2 linked regions of the Homo sapiens genome follow. The protein of the gene in region 2 interacts with the protein of the main gene of each other region in a biochemical or structural test. Each region holds a gene or a part of one and is shown on either strand. Other genes may lie near its edges.

Region 1 (3,406 bases), on a different chromosome or scaffold from region 2:
CACCAATGACAACATCCTCTAAAACCTACTTTAACCCAACCTATTTAGACTTGAATCATTTTTCACTTAGATTTTTTTTTTTTTTTAAAGAGACGGGGTCTTGCCATGTTGCCCAGACTGGTCTCAAAATCCTGGGCTCAGGCAATCTTCCTGCCTCTGCTTCCCAAAGTGCTGGGATTATAGGTGCCTGGCCCTAGATTATCTTTAATTGCGTGAATTCTAATCCAATCAAAAGCAAGATGAGAGAAAATGTAATTATAGTACCAGAGGAACTTGAAAGGTCTCATATATTCCCTCCTCCCTTTTTTGGAAATAGCATACATACGATTTTAGTATCAATTTTTATTTATGTTTGCCCTAAACTCCTTTTGCTATAATCTTTTGTTTTCTTAAAGATACAGCCCAAGTCATCATAAAACGAATCCTACTATAATCTATTCTAGATTATAGAATATTAATAATATTATTATATAAGAAGATTCTAAGCACTATTAGATACAGTAGGGTCTCAAAGATTTCTGAACTACATATGTGCAGTTCTTTTAATAATTCCTCTGAGGTTCTGTATTTTTGTCTTTCAATTATCATCAATGCCTTCCTCCAATATTCCCTCATGTTTCGGGGGGAGAGGGGGTCAGTGTGAGGTGATGAGAGCTGAAGAGTCAAGATCCAAGATCCCCAATTTTCAAATCCAGCCTCACACCAACCAACTGTAGGACACTGGACAAATCCCTGAGCCTGCTATGTAGATTTCAGTTTTCTTCATACAAAATGAGTACATTTGACTAGAATGATGCTTCTCAACCCTTTTAACATTGCAAACAAAACTTGTCAGCAAAAAAAAATTTAGCACACTGGACAACAGGAGGGCATTTGGAGGCATCTACACAGTGCCTGGTGAAAAAAAATTATCATATTTTCTAATTACAGAAGAAAAAATGTAAAGTGTTATGGTAGATATTTTTTGACACATGTAATGCTGAAAATTTTAATATGAATTTCAAAACCAAACATTTTCACATCAAGAATATTTCAAAATTAAAATCATGCTTTATTTCTGACAAACATACATGCACTATTAGGCAGTCACCTTGCAGAGCATATCAAACGCACGTGGTGAGCAGCATCCAATACAGGTGAATACAGATAGTCAGGCCTGGAGCTGGGCCACCAGAGACACCCTCCCTGCTTCCTTGTCCTCTCATTGTAAGTGGGTTGCACCTTGTGGTAGGTGGCATGTTCCTTCGGCACCGTGAATACAAACTCCAGTAACAATTCCATGATCCCTTTCCCACAAAAGGCAGCTGTACACTGTGGCTGGCTGCTGAAGTAGATTCCAAGTAGTAAGGCACACCTCATTTAATGCACTTAAAATATCAAAAGGAGCAGTATGCTGCTTTTAACTGTTGGTTGTCACTCACCATGCTATTTGTTCACAGGAACCCCAACGCCTTCCTTCAGCCCCCATTCTACTAGGACTACCCTTCTGTGAGCCATGTAACATCAACTGAAAACTTTGAATTAGAAGATCTCTAACAATAACTAAAGTTAAAAACAGTATTGCAGTAATCATTTGTTTGTAACAACTATTATGGTCTCTTATTTTTTCCTTCTTACCAATTCCTGTAAGCAAAACATAACTTAAAAATATTAACTTTGAATAGTATTACATGCACATGATTTTAAAATACTGAAAAATTACCAAACAGTATACTTTAAAAGTTAGTCCATCTTTGTCCTCTAGGCAACCACTTCTACACACTGGAGCAATTACTGTCATCAGACTCTCCCGTATCCTCCCATGCACATTACATTCTATAGCTGCCTATATATACACACACACACACACACACACACACACACACACATATGGATTTTATTATAATAAAGAATTTTATTCTAATACATAGGCATATATAGCATATAAAAATATATATTTTAACCACACGAATGGCAGCAAACTGCACATGCAGTCATGCCTCTTGCTTTTTTTCCTCATATCTTTGACATAGCACCACAGCAGTACACATAGTATTCTCTCATTATTTTTAAAGGCTGACTAGTATTCTGTTGAATATATACACCATAATTCACCTAACTACTTCCCTACTGATATGTTTAGCATGTTTCCAATCTTTTGCAGTAACAAATAATGCTGCCACAAATATTCTTAGATATTTATTTGACATATATGCAAAATCTTCTAGAGAATAAAATCCTATAATGGAATTACTAGAACGAAATAAATCTGTGTTTTAATTTTTGAAAACCATTTTCAAACTGCTTTCTATAGAGTATGAATACTTTATAATCCCACCAGCAATGTATAAGGCTGACCATTTTCTCTTCTCACCTTTCCCGAGTTATACTATACATAACCTTTGCTCATTTGATAGGTGACAAAGAGTATGTTGTAGCTTGAATTTACATCTTTATTATATTATAAATAAAGTTGTACATTTTTTCATATGAATTCTCTTTGCTAATTTTTCTACTGGATTATTTTCTAGTTCTTTGTATTAAGAGGAACTTAGCCCTTTGTGAAGTATACAAATAAGTTTTACTAGTCTGTTTCTCTTTTAACTTTGTTTGATTTTTTCCCCTGTACAGAATTTTATTTTTATGTCCTAAAATCCAGCAACCCAGTATGCTATTAAAGGACTTCACCAATCCTGGATTACGTAAAAAATAATTACCCTACCTTTTTTGTTTCTTTGTTTCATATTTAAATCTTTAACTCCTCTGGAAGCCAACATTATTTTTCCAGATGACTAACTGGCTATCCCAACACTGTTTATTAAACAATTCTTCTTTTCCCTACTCATAAATGAAGGTGGGATCCATTTTCATATACAAGTTGAATACCCCTTATCTGAAATGCTTGGGACCAGAAGTGTTTCAGATTTTAGAATATTTGCACATACATGAGATATCCTGAGGATGGGACCAAACCTGAATGTAATTTTATATAATTTTAAATAATGTTACACATGAAACAAAGTTGTTTTGATTGTTTTTGAGACAGGGACTTGCTCTGTCACCCAGGCTGGAATGCAGTCATACAATCATGGCTCACTGCAGCCTTCACCTCCTGGGCTCAAGCGATCCTCCTGCCTCAGCCTCCCAAGTAGCTGGAACCACAAACGTGTACCACCCTGCCTGGCTAACTTTTGTATTTTTTTGTAGAGATAGCGTCTTTCCATGTTGCCCAGGCTGGTCTTGAACTCCTGGGCTGAAGCAATCCTCCCACCTTAGCCTCCCAAAGTGTTGGGATTACAGACATGAGCCACTGCATCCAGCCTGAAACGAAGTTTTGACTGCGACCCATCATGAGGTCAGGTGTGGAATTTTCTACTTGTGGCATCATGTTGGTGTTCAAAACATTTCAGATTTTGAAGGATTTCAG
Region 2 (2,578 bases):
TCCCTTCCCTGGAACTTTCCAAGGGGCCCTTAGAATTTGTATTCAGCTCTCACAGGCTGAGACCAGGGTGACATCCTGGGAAACCTGCCTAGTGATAGCCAAGGTGTAGCTCCAGATGAAAGGCACACAACTTTAAATATAAAAAAGCCATTCAGGCTAGGCTCAGTGGCTCATGCGTGTAATCCCAGCACTTTAAGAGACTGAGGCAGACAGATCACCTGAGGTCAGAAGTTCAAGACCAGGCTGGCCAACATGGCAAAACCCTGTCTCTACAAAATATATAAAAATTAACAGGCATGGTGGTGCATACCTGTAATCCCAGCTACTCAGGAGGCTGAGGCACAAGAATCGCTTGAACCTGGGAAGCAGAGGTTGCAGTGAGCCAAGCCTGCACCACTGCACTTCATTCAGGCTGGGCAACAGAGTGAGACTCCATCTCAAATAAATAAATAATAAAGCCATTCAACTAAAGAACCGATTATCAAGCAGAAGCACAAAGCCCAGGTTCCATCAGGTTTTTAATTGTACATCAGTGACTGTGAAAAAGCAATTATTCCCATAATTAAAATACAAACTATAAAAAAACAGACTCAAAGAAAAGAAAGATGACAGAGTGAAAGAAGGTACATTTCTTTCGTGTTCAAACCACGGAGTTCACAACACAGCAGCACACACAGCTGGGCGCTTTGTGGTCTCGGCACCCTCGGCTTCCCCTTCACGGGGCCGCTTTCGACTAGTAGAAGGCTGAAAATAAAGGAAAATGGAGAAATGTTCAAAAGAAAATCACTGGCTTCTTTAAGATTATCAAAGTTCCTCAATATGCTTCCAGTAAAGTGGGGGCATTTGATGTGAAATTCTAGAACCAAAAATTACTGGTTGTCATCATTGACAACTGAGTCCTCACCACAGCCCCCAACTCAGACATGCTTATCTAATAGATATTTCTCTCCCTTATGGCTTCTGACCTCTGAACGATGTATACTGAAAGCAAGTAGCATAACCAACTTCCTCTTGATCGTCCTCTTCTAAATATCAAGTTTAAAAGGACTATAATACCTCTCAGTTGAAGCCCCAAGTCTTGGTCTTTTGCGGGAAGACAACCTTTGTGCCTTAGTTGTTTTCCCATATATAAAATTGGGAGGAAGGCTGGGTGCGGTGACTCACAGCTGTAATCCCAGCACTTTGGAAAGCCGAGGTGGGCAGGTCGCTTCAGGTCAAAAGTTCGAGACAAGCCTGACCAACATGGCAAAACCCCATCTCACCTAAAAATTCAAAAATTAGCTGGGCACAGTGGCGGACACCTGTAATCCCAGATACTCGGGAGACTGAGGCAGGAGAACTGCTTGAACCCAGGAGGCAGAGGTTGCAGTGAGCTGAGATTGCACCACTGCACTCCGGCCTGAGTGACAAACCAAGACTCTGTCTCAAGAAAAAAAAAATTGGGGGGAGGAAACAGTGGGAAAAAGGACAGCTACCATTCAACAACAACAACAACAACAAAAAAGCAGGACTGGAATTAACTTATACTCACAAAGAACTTTAAAGAATAAAATTGTAATCAAGGAATCAACTACTGACCCAAATTTTAATTTGTTCAACAAATTTATATTTGAGCCTCTAATAGAGTCTTTCGAAATTGCCTTGCAGGTGACCTTTTGGATGACAATCCCTAGCTGTGCTTATCGGTCTATTATGTGTTAGATATTAAACATATCCTGCATTTTTAAATCTAAGGGTGCTGGAGCGAATCAAGTTAAAACAGAGTTTCTACTACATTATAACTGAAACAATGTTAAGCAATTGCTACTCAGGAAAATCTTGAATTTCATCATCTTTGCTTATCAGCTCCTTAAGCCCAGACTACATTTAGTGATCATCAGGAATACGAATACCTGGGCTAGAACCTGGGGTAGAGCTGTGGATTCATTTTCCTCAGACAGAAGATCTTGAAACTTTCTCTTCATGTCTTCATCCTGTGAGGGAATTAAAAACATAAGTAGCTGTGTCTGAAGGATAATAAACTCCTAGAATGACAGGGCTAGCATGCCCCTGTGGAAAGAGGGAGGAAAAATGTCCGTCCAAGAATCATCCCCTTGATGAAGCTCCCACAGCGAAGGCATTATGTGTTGCCCGCCTCTACCTTCCCAGAGGAGTCTAATTAGCAGTCAATGCTCCATCAATCCTGGCTGACTCACATCCACATGCCTAAAAGCTCTCAGTGGGTCAATCACAGCCTCCAGCAGTCAAGAGTTTCTTAATTAGTATCCAAGATCCTGAGAAAGGTGGCAATCAGGAGGCCAGAGGCTGGGCCTGACTCCGTGCAGCTCCTCAAATCCTTCCCGGACCACTCTCCACCTGCTGCCCCTGCCATGAATGAGGCCAGTCACCCAGACTGTCCTAACAACCAGCCCAGCACCCTAGGAAAATTCACCCAGCAGATGCCATACAAATTTTCAGAAGTACTTAAGCCCACAGTATCCCAGAGCTCAGGTCTAATGAGAAAGGGAGACAATAAACAGAACCAAGTATTTTGTTTCTGCTGCAGGAGCGGGAGGTGAGGGGTTTCATGCTGCAGGAG

What was found. Proteins that work in one complex are often made in the same cells at the same time.
Region 1: of the proteins of CHEK2 (region 2) and REV3L, one has a biochemical effect on the other in vitro, tested with the Homo sapiens proteins (one study listed by BioGRID).

Annotation. Positions count from the first base shown.
Region 1 is NC_000006.12:111,473,156-111,476,561, forward strand, and holds part of REV3L (DNA polymerase zeta catalytic subunit), read right to left. Parts: exon of another isoform or gene 1,091-3,406; intron 1-1,090. UniProt on the Homo sapiens protein: Catalytic subunit of the DNA polymerase zeta complex, an error-prone polymerase specialized in translesion DNA synthesis (TLS). Lacks an intrinsic 3'-5' exonuclease activity and thus has no proofreading function.
Region 2 is NC_000022.11:28,687,243-28,689,820, forward strand, and holds the end of CHEK2 (serine/threonine-protein kinase Chk2), read right to left. Parts: intron 1,974-2,578; coding exon 1,893-1,973; intron 745-1,892; coding exon 655-744; 3' UTR 501-654; downstream 1-500. UniProt on the Homo sapiens protein: Serine/threonine-protein kinase which is required for checkpoint-mediated cell cycle arrest, activation of DNA repair and apoptosis in response to the presence of DNA double-strand breaks.